Regions from separate parts of the Homo sapiens genome. Here region 1 is linked to region 2. The links come from fine-mapping of genetic effects on gene expression. A gene starts in region 2. The other region holds a variant in brackets. All regions are shown on one strand. Distances are between the middles of the regions.

Evidence for each region. PIP is the estimated chance that this variant, and not a neighbour inherited with it, causes the effect.
Region 1: its variant is the best candidate, but not a certain one, in a credible set for the expression of PAN3 in whole blood (TOPMed, PIP 0.88).

Annotation. Positions count from the first base shown.
Region 1 is chr13:28,281,021-28,286,243 of GRCh38, reverse strand. PAN3 (poly(A) specific ribonuclease subunit PAN3) reads right to left here. Exons shown (of 19, transcript NM_175854.8): 17 at 4,865-4,929. It overlaps LOC124903140 (a long non-coding RNA gene), which reads left to right. Exons shown (of 2, transcript XR_007063735.1): 1 at 1-3,889. Among named protein-coding and RNA genes, the nearest start is that of PAN3-AS1, 140 kb to the right of the region's middle. The variant T/C (reference allele first, on the strand shown) is at 3,159.
Region 2 is chr13:28,135,308-28,140,530 of GRCh38, reverse strand. PAN3 (poly(A) specific ribonuclease subunit PAN3) reads right to left here and starts at 1,986. Exons shown (of 19, transcript NM_175854.8): 1 at 1,444-1,986. The coding sequence starts at 1,873. PAN3-AS1 (PAN3 antisense RNA 1) reads left to right here and starts at 1,357. Exons shown (of 2, transcript NR_029383.1): 1 at 1,357-1,984; 2 at 2,126-3,688. RefSeq lists an enhancer at 945-1,239 and silencers at 1,322-1,721, 1,762-1,841, 2,032-2,141.

The DNA.
Region 1 (5,223 bases), 150 kb before region 2:
AAACCCTGGCTGTCAGGCTTATACCACAGACAGTAGAGGTTGGAAGATTCTTTTCAGGGGATGCTGACCTGTCCAAGACAAATGATAATCCTTGACAGTCTATCAAAAACAAACAAAAATCATGTATAACAACATCACACTGCTTTATCACAGAGAAAGGTTCAACATTCTATAATCCCTGCCCTCACAAAGGCTTCCCATTGGCTTTTTAGGACCTTATTTTTAATACAAATGGACAGCTAAGTATCAGAAATCTTTTGTTACAAAACAAAACAAAATAAAGCAAACTCTTGTTTCCTATGAGATACTGCAGGGAATGGAACAAAACTTAAAACTAAGACAAACAAAAACCAACCACCAGCAAAAATCTATTAACTGACGGCCTCAGAGAAACAAGAATTAGATGGTACAAGACAAACATTCAGAAAACAGAATTGTTCTTGGAAAATAAAAATATGATAGCAGAAATTTAAAAATTCAAAGAATTAGAAAAAAAACTTTAATTTTAGAAAAATGCAGTTGAGATAACTGCCCAGAAAGTAGAACAAAAAAAATTAGAGATAGAAAATAGAAGAGAATATTTGAAAATCAATTGCAAAGGTCTAACATCTGAGCGATGAGAATTCCAGGACAAGAAGTTATTAAAGAAACAATGAAGACCATGTCCCAGAACTGAAGGACGTTAAGTTTCCAAGATTAAAGGGGTTCACCTGTTAATCCATCATTATGACTCAAAACCTACACCAAGGAACATCACTGTGAATTTCTGAACATCAGTGACTAAACAAACAAACAAACAAACAAACAAAACCCAAAAGCTTGGAGGAAGGAAAGGATTTATAAAGAAAATGCCTTTGAATCTGCCTGGAAGTTAAAAGGAACAATGCTTCAAATTCTGAACTATCATCACTAGTACTTACCTATGTACTGAAAGTACCCGCTAACACAACCACTCAAGAGAAATTAAAAGTATAGAAACTGGGAAGGAAACTATCATTATTTGCAGATAACACCTGGGAAACTCAAAGAGAATTTACTGAAAACGACCCAAACAATAAGGTACCAGAGCATAAAATTTAAAGAAATCAAGAATTCTCATATATACCAGTAACAAGAAGACAGAATGGGGGAAATTTTCCCACTTATAATAGCAACAAGATGAAATACCTAAGAATACACTCAGTATTGCTATAACTATATAAAGAACAACTTAAATACTACTGAAGAATACAAAAGTAGACATCAACAAATAGAATGACATACCATGATCTTGGTTACGATGACTCAACATCTAAAATCACAAATGTTCCCAGAGTTTAAACACGATAAATATGCTATCTTCCCTATGAAGAAACCATCAGGTTTATTGATTTTTTTTTAACTAAAGAAGCTGATTCTAGAATTTGTACAGAAAATTTAATAGTATTAGGAAAACAACAAAGTGGTGCCCAATGAAATGGAGATGGGAAAGAATACTGCTAGATTTCAAAATTCAATTTCATGATTGAATTAAAATAGTATGGAAGAGGTGTGGCTTCAAAAACCAGTGGGGAAAAGCTAGATTGTTCGACTATTCAATAAACAGCTTTTGGACTACTAGGTAGTCTTGGGGACAAGGGGAGATGGACTTACACCTTACACCCTATACAATTTCTAACCACATAAAACATTTTTAATATGAAGAAATGAAACCACAAATGTTCTGGAAAAAACCATGAAATAGTTCCTTCATAATCTTGGAGTAGAAAGAGGCTTTCTAACTATGATTCAAAATCCAGAAGCAAAGAAGAAATTTGGTCAGTTACAGACATATACAAATGTCTCCAAGGGTGGGGAATGAGCAGTCAAAAAAAAAAAAAAAATCACAAAAAGAGTGAATCTCTTTAGCTCTTATATATCAATAAGAAAGACAAGCAATCCAATTGAAAATAAAAATGGGCAAAGGATATGAATTGAACAGGACATAAGAATGGATCAATAGCATAAAACAGACCCTCAAACATGCTTGTTAAGAGTACATAGAACATAAAACTGCATTTAAATTCAATTTTTCACCTACAAGGTTGACAAAAATCTAAGAGTTTGAAAAAAGTATTTTGGTGAGGCAGTCTCACGAATTACACACATGGGTAAACTATTCTCCAATAGCTATGAAATTATAGTGGCACACCTACTGACCTAGCAATCACAATTGGCCTATATTTACATATATATAAGATTAAGTATGCACAAGTTAGTCCCTACAGTACCGCCCACCCTAGCAAAGGACTGAAAACAGCCCAAATGCCCACCTATAGGGAACTGGGGAATAAACTATAACACATCCATAGGATAAACTACTACCAGGCCATTAAAGTATGAGGAGACACATAGCATAGTGGTTAGGAGCACACACTCTGGAACCATACTGTCTAGACTGGAGTCCTGGATCATATACTTATTAATTACGCAACCTTTGTTCAAGTTATTTAACCTCTCTATGCTGCAATTACTCTGTTAAATAGGAATAACAATGGTAACTCCATCATAGGGTTGTTATGAGGAATAAGTCAGGTCATATTTGTAAACTATTTTGAATAGTGCTTGGCATATACTAAACATATCTAAATAGAAAGATTTCTAAAACACGCTGTTATGATAAAATATACTGTGTATGGTTTACAATTTTTATATATTTAAAGGGGGAGGGGATAAGAATATATAGTTGTATTTGTAACTCTGGAATAATACAGAAGAAACTAAAAATATAGACTGATGGGGGAAACTGGGAATAGATATTGGGGATGTCAGGTATGAAAGAGAGACTTTTACAGTTTTCACTGCAAACTTTTCCTACTTTTTACTTTATTCATAGACAACCTATTTAAAAAATTTAATTAATAAGAATAATTTCCTGGCTGGGCACAGTGACTCATGCCTGTAATCCTAGCACTTTGGAAGGCTGAGGCAGGTGGATCACCTGAGGTCAGGAGTTCGAGACCAGCTTGGACAACATGGTGAAACCCTGTCTCTACCAAAAATACAAAAATTAGCTGGGCATGGTGGCATGCGCCTGTAATCCCAGCTACACTGGAAGCTGAGGCAGGAGAATCGCTTGATCCTGGGAGGCGAGGGTTGCAGAGAGCCAAGAATGCGCCATTGCACTCCAGCCTGGGGGA[T/C]AGAGCGAGATTCCCTCTCAAAAAAAAAAAGGAAAAATTTTCTGAGGACAATCTAGAATTTAGTATGCATTCACAGTATCAATAATGTGTGAAAGTAGAATAATGCCATTTTCAAACTTGCAAGACTAAAAAAACTCACCTTTTTCAGGAAGCTACAAGGACATGCTCCATTAAGTCAAAATAAATAAATAAATAAATAAATAAACAAACCAAGGAATAAAGCAAGAAAACAGGGTATCCAACACAGAGAGATAATGAGAATTCCCAGATAATACTGAAGGGAAGTTCCAGTTCTAAAGTGTAAGCACGTGCAGGCTTAAAGCATAACCAGCCCAGATAGGAACAGGAAGTGCAGAGGATCCAGAGCCAATTCTCTAGGTGGGAGGGAAAAAAAGGAACTGATAGGTTACCTATTTTTGACCGCATGGGAGAGGTGTTTTGTAACACTAAATACAGATTCAACTCATGTGTGCATGTGTGTGTGCACGTGCGTGCACGTGTGTAGGGAAGAGGATGAGTCATTAGCTGAATTATATATTGGGGGAATCAAGAATAGAACTATAAGCAGACATTTTAAAGTAAAGAGATAAATGCTAGAAGAAACAGCTAAAAGTTTATTAAAAATGGTTTAACATATATTGTTATGTTCTCTTCACTTAGAAAAATTATTAGGGAAGACACTAAATGAGTCTTTCGACTTTGAAGAAAAGCAAGTGGACTTGAATTCCATGGTAAAAAAAAAAAACAACCCCTCAAGTAATAGTATTTATCTCTCACCTATCTCTATTAACAAATCAAACATTCCTGAAATGTAACTTACGTATATAGTCATAGTAATTGCAAATTCTGTTCTACCTGTCTTTGACAGTTATGTAGTACAAACATCGACTCTGCTTATGTATATATGGTTAACATTAACTTACAAATGAGGTGGAACTAAGTGACAAATAGTGTAAAAGGTAATGCCTTTCCAATGTCACTTATATGATGGCTATAAAAAGTATACTTTAGGCCAGGCGTGGTGGCTCATGCCTGTAATCCCAGCACTTTGGGAGGCCAAGGCAGGTGGATCACCTGAAGTCAGGAGTTCAAGACCAGACCACCCTGGCCAACATGGTGAAACCCTATCTCCACTAAAAATACAAAAATTAGCTGGGTATGGTGGTGCACACCTGTAGTCCCAGCTACTTGGGAGGCTGAAGCAGGAGAATCGCTTGAACCTGGGAGGCAGAGGTTGCAGTCAGCCGAGATTGTGCCACTGCACTCCAGCCTGGCGACAGAGGGAGACTCCGTCTCAAGAAAAAAAAAAAAAAAAAAAAGTGTGCTTTAATAGAAGGTAAGAGGCATGCAAAAATTAGAGATTTCTCAAGTCTCTAAACTGACCAGGGTAAACTTACATGAAACTTCTTCCTCAAAAAGAAGATAGGGTAGAGGTAGTATTAGTCATAAAATGTGCCCTCATGTGCAAACCACAAGAGATTTCTAACACACCATATTTTCTGTGTGTATACATGTGTGTAAAATTCGTAAGGACAGCCACACCTAGGCTGTTGTTAAAAATAGCACCTTAACAGCTAACACAATCTTAAGGTCACTTCACATGAGAATTTTTCTCTTTTTCCAAATAAAGCCAGGCATACTTATTCTTATTATGCAAAATAGTGCTCTCGATTAAAAATATATTGTAAAATACTGTAAATCCTTACTCCGGCCTCTCATTGATTGTTCCCAATTTTGCTAGGAGCCTAAACAGTCTTCCATTTTGAACCTCCTATAAAACATTTTAAAAAGAGAAAAATGTTAATGTTCCAGATAACTGAACATAAAAGCCAAAATTTACAAAAACTGGTAACCTGTACCAATATTACCTTTAAACAATAAATCCTAACATCCCCACCTTTTGGTTATACTTTTAAACAAACACAATATGTCCATTTCATTTCATAATGGTACTCAAGAAGATTATGGAGCTGTCCATAGGAATTGGAAAAGTAACTCACATGAAAAACCAAGATTTTTGTCACATGACTGTAGCAAAGCCATGAATGAAAAGAACAGTGTTGTC
Region 2 (5,223 bases):
ATATTAAATAATCCTCATAGACCAATTAAATGCTAAAACTTCCTATCAGGTTCATTAACAGTGTTTAAGAAAAAGACAAAATGTTCTCATGTACAAATTGAACTGCCTATCAGATTATTTTAAGATCTAGTTCTCCAGAATTCCCAAGAAAGTAGGACTCCTATTTGGTTTAGAAACGCTCAATATACTAAGAAACAAAACAGGGACATCTGGCACCGGCTCTATTCGTAAAGGCAACATTCTCTAACAGATTACGCTCACATTCAATTGTAAACTCCACTAACAACTAACAAGCTTCAGGTCAATAGATAACAACACACTGAGAGGCTGAGGAGGACAGATCACTTGAGGCCAGCAGTTTGAGACCAGCCTGGCCAACACAACGAGACTACTATCTCAACTAAAACTACAAAAAATTATCTGGCCGTGGTGGCGCGCGCCTGTAGTCCCAGCTACTCCGTAGGCAGAGGCAACAGAATCGCTTGAACTCGGGAGGCGGAGGTTGCAGTGAGCTGAGATCGCGCAACTGCACTCCAGCCTGAGCGACAGGGCGAGACTCTCTCCAAAACAACAACAACAACAACAACAACAACACATGAAAAAGAAATATAAACAGCCTTAAGATGTCCCCACCCAAGTGCTCAGTCGCACATAAACGCAGGCTGCACATGACATGCATTCAAGACACAATGCTGAGTTTGCTTGATACAAAGCTATAGAAGACAGGATCCCAGCTGACACCAGCAAACTTATTCTAGCTTTCAGGGAAACTCAGATGAAATGCGTCTTTGTGAAATCCCTACTCTAAACTCTCGATTAAACCTGAGCACACTTTGAACGCGACAGTCCGCTCCCTCCTAATCCTTAGAAAGCATTTCCTGCCTGCAAAACCTTTCTCCCGCAAGCCTTCTACAAACTTTTTCCGTTCTTTCAACCTACTCCACGAAGCCTTAAGCCCGCCCCTCACCTCCCGCCCCCTACACACACACACACACACACACACACACACACACACAAACACACCCCTCCCCACTAGGGAACCTCAACACTCTGCAGACGCCACTCCACAAGGACACGCAAAACACATGTGCCTGCAAACCCAGCCCCTTTCCACACCCCCCGGAAACGACACCCCCTTTCTCACACTCCGCACGCCACAGCCCATCCCCCTTCCTCCCCGCCCCCCCTTCACATCACCCCAGTCCTCCCACCCACGTTCCCGGGAACCCAACCTCCCCGCGCTCTCCGACTTGCCGAAGGCAGTGGGGAGGGGAAGCAGGAAGAAGGAAGGAGGGCTCAGGCCCGGCCTAGGCCTCTCAGACCGCCTTGGGAGGTGAGGGGGGGAGCCCGCGGGCCGTGCTCAGCTCCCGTCGGCAGCAGGGCCTCATCCGGCCCAGGCCTGCCCTCCGCCGCCGCGGCCCGCCCCGCCCGAAAAACACTCACTTGCCAGCCGCGGTCCATCGAGTCCCCCGCTACTGCCTCCTCCGCCGGCTGCGGCTCCGGTCCCCGGGTCCCCCAGGTCCGGCTTCTTGGGCCCGGGGGGCGGCCCAGCTCCCCCGCCCGCGACGGCTCCCGGCGGAAAGCCGGCCACGGGTGCACCAGCCAGAGCCAGGGGGACGCTGTTGCTATGGAGGCCGAGGCCCGGGGCAGCCCCGGCGGCAGGGTCCTCATGCAGGAACTGACACTCCTCCCCGTAGAAGCAAGTCTTATCCTTAGCGTAGTAGCGGCAGTACTTCAGCTTCACTCCTACCGCCGCCCCGCCGGGGACACCCCCGACCCCCGGCGGGGCCACCACCGCCACCGCCGCCGCCAGCGAGGAGGAGGAAGGGGAGGCGGCGGCCGAGGGGGGCGGGAGGCCGCCGCCACTGTTCATGGCAACGCCGCAGCCTCGTCTTCCGCCGCCGCCCGAGGAGCCGCCGCCGCCACCACCATAGACGGGGGAGGAAAGGAAGACGCTGCCGGTGCCGGATAAAAGCCTGGGCGGGTGGGTCTGTCCCGCTGCGGGAGCCGGAGCCGCCCGGGGAGAAGGGGGAGGGGAGAGGGGAGGGAGGAGGGGGTAGAAGGAGGGAGGGTAGGGGGAGAGTTGGGATTCTCTCACTCACTCTCTCGTTCTCTTTTCTTAAAGGGGCCGCGCGGGACGACGGGGTGAGCGCGCGGGCCCAGACGGGGACTTCGAGGGCGCGGGCAGGGGAAGAGGGAGCGGCAGCGGCAAGCGGGTGGGGAAGGCGGAGGGGCCGGTTTATTTTTAAATTCTGCCTCCACTCGCTCTCTCGCGCTCTGGTTCCTCCGAGTTGTTTATTCCATTTTCCTCTTCCTGAGACGGCCGTCGCCGCTGCGCGTGCGCGCTGAGACGCGAGGGCTTATGGGTAGCGGGAGCGCTAGGGGAAGCCTGGCCGGCGTCGGGCCCCCGGGGGCATCCGCGAGCTATCGGCGGTTGGACCGGCGGCTCTCGGTGGGGTTCCGGACGCGGATCTGGCGCCGAATTCTCACGAGACCTGATACCTTCCTTATTTGTATATTCTCTTACTTAAAAAGCCAGATGTCTTTTTTTTTTTTTTCATTGAAAAGAGAAAATTGACAAGGTAAACGGTCGTTTGGAGGGGCCACCTGGGGACGCGGCCCGAGCCCTGGCTCTACCTGAAGAATATCTTCTATTTGCCACACTTCCTCTCCCCGTTTCCTTTCTTCGCCCCTCTCCTCTTTCCCCTTCCCCTCGAAGGTAATGAGAACTACTGGACCGATTACGCTAACCTCTTGGCCCTTTGTCAAAAAATGGAGCCAAAAAGGTTGATTTAGACAGACCCCCTGCTCAGTGCAGCACCTGTTATTCTCTGTATTTATATTACCAAGGGCCTTCGGTAAATTATGAAAAATAGGATGCCACCTGGGACAACACTGCTTAGACAGCACTGGAAGACCTTTATAAATATACTAGGTTGCTTTTCTCCAATCAGCCTAGCCTTGATTTGAAATTCATTTTTATTTTTTTTGAGACGGTGAAATTCATTTTTAAAAGATAGTTTTAACCTCAGCGATCTCTGATGTTTGCGCTAATACCCTTTTAAAGGCTTTCAGAAATTTTAAAGAATTGCTATGAAAGGAAAAGTAACATTCTAGTTTTTCTCTGTAAAAGAGGTTCACAAACGGCAGATCGCTGTTATGAAAAGGAGGGGTGGAAGTATTTAAGGAATTGTGGCAAACAAAGTCACAGAAGAATGGATATAAGCAAAAGTAGCACACTGAAAAAAATGGGGAAAAGTGGAGTCTAGATCACAAACTGGTAAGCTTGGTGATGTTCTCTAGCCAAATTCGAAGGTAATAACATTGTATTATGGCTTTCTGTTTAAAAGCAGTTTCGCTTATTTGATTATTCAACAAATCTTTATTAACACGCATTACGTGTACCAGAAACTGTGGTACACTTAACTGTGGAGCTGGGGAAGCAAAAGTGAACATGCCGCCTTAAGTGAGTTCAGATGGCTTATCTTCCGGTTGGGGAGGCATCAAGTACACAGGTCCGTTGTAAACCAGTGTCTTAAGTGCTAACCTTATCACATTTGCTATTAGAGGATATTAAACATGTCAGACTTCTTGGAGAAAGTTGATATTTTCATGTTCCAAGTTTGGGAACATCATTGAATTCAGACAGATCTGGATTGAAACAGATTAAAGTGCCTACACTTTAATAGCTGTGTTCCTCTCAGTTAATTGCTTCATTTCTCTGTGCCTTGTCTGTACACCTGGATTAAGAATAGTACCTACTTCATAAAGTATAACTAATAATGTATATAAACTGTCCCATGCCTAATAAGAATTCGGTAGGTTGTAACTATTATTAATAGTATTGGCCAGGCGCAGTGGCTCACGCCTGTAATCCCAGCACTTTGGGAGGCCAAGGCGGGTGGATCACCTGAGATCAGGAGTTCGAGACCAGTCTGGCCAACCTGGTAAAACACCGTCTCTACAAAAATACAAAAAAATTACTGGGCGTGGTGGCGAGCGCCTGTGATCCCAGCTACTGGGGAGGCTGAGACATAAGAATCACTTGAACCTGGGAAGCAGAGGTTGCAGTGAGCCGAGATCTCGTCATTGCACGCCAGCCTGGGCGACAGAGCGAGACTCCATCTCGAAAAAAAAGTAGTATTGCTGCTAGTGGTAGTCAGTGTATAGTCAAAGAGCATTCTAGGCAAACAGCTTTTATTGTTAGAATACAGTGATAGTGGAAAATGGAGCAGAGTCCACAAAAGTCCTTGTAGGGCCATGTTAAAGAATTGAACTTTTGGCCAGGCGCAGTGGCTCACGCCTGTAATCCCAGCACTTTGGGAGGCTGAGGCGAGCAGATCACGAGGTCAGGAGTTCAAGACCAGCCTGGCCAACATGGTGAAACCCCCGTCTCTGCTAAAAATACAAAAATTAGCTGGGTGTGGTAGCAGGCACCTGTAATCTCACCTACTCGGGAGGCTGAGACAGAAGAATTGCTTGAACCCGGGAGGCAGAGGTTGCAGTGAGATCGCACCACTGCACTCTAGCCTGGGCGACAGAGCAAGGCTCCATCTCAAAAAAAAAAAAAAGAATTGAACTTTTTCTTGAGGACAATTGGAAGTTATTACAGGGTTTTTAAAAGTCAACATGGCAGGGCACAGTGGCTCACACCTCTAACCTCACTGCTTTGGAAGGAAGCCAAGGCAAGAGGATCACTTGAGGCCGGGAGTTCAAGACCCTCTTGGGAAAACTAGCAAGACCCTGTCTATACAAAACAATTTAAAAATTAGCCAGGTGTAGAGGCACTTGCCTATAGTCCTAGCTACTGGGGAGGCTGAGGCAGAGGATCATTTGGGCTCAGGAGTTCCAGGATGCAGTGAGCTTTGAAGGCGCCATTTTATGCCAACCTGCACAGCAGTGAGACCCTCTCGGTCAATAAATAAAAAATAAACTTATTTGCCACACATTTCATATCTCCACACTTTTTTAGGAGACAACTACTTATTCCTATAGTAGGGTTGTCTTTTTAAGCAGGGTTCATTGTTGAGTATTCCTTTACTAAAAATAAATATGTAGTCAACTCTAAGTTATTTTCATGTTAATGAAGATTACATCCAAAACTGCAAATAATCCATAAATTATTCATAAAATGTATACTTGACCTCCAACAGCATTTCCCCAGCAACAGAGACTACATTGCTAAAGGGTAATGTTAATTTCTATTAAATGCTAATAATTGAG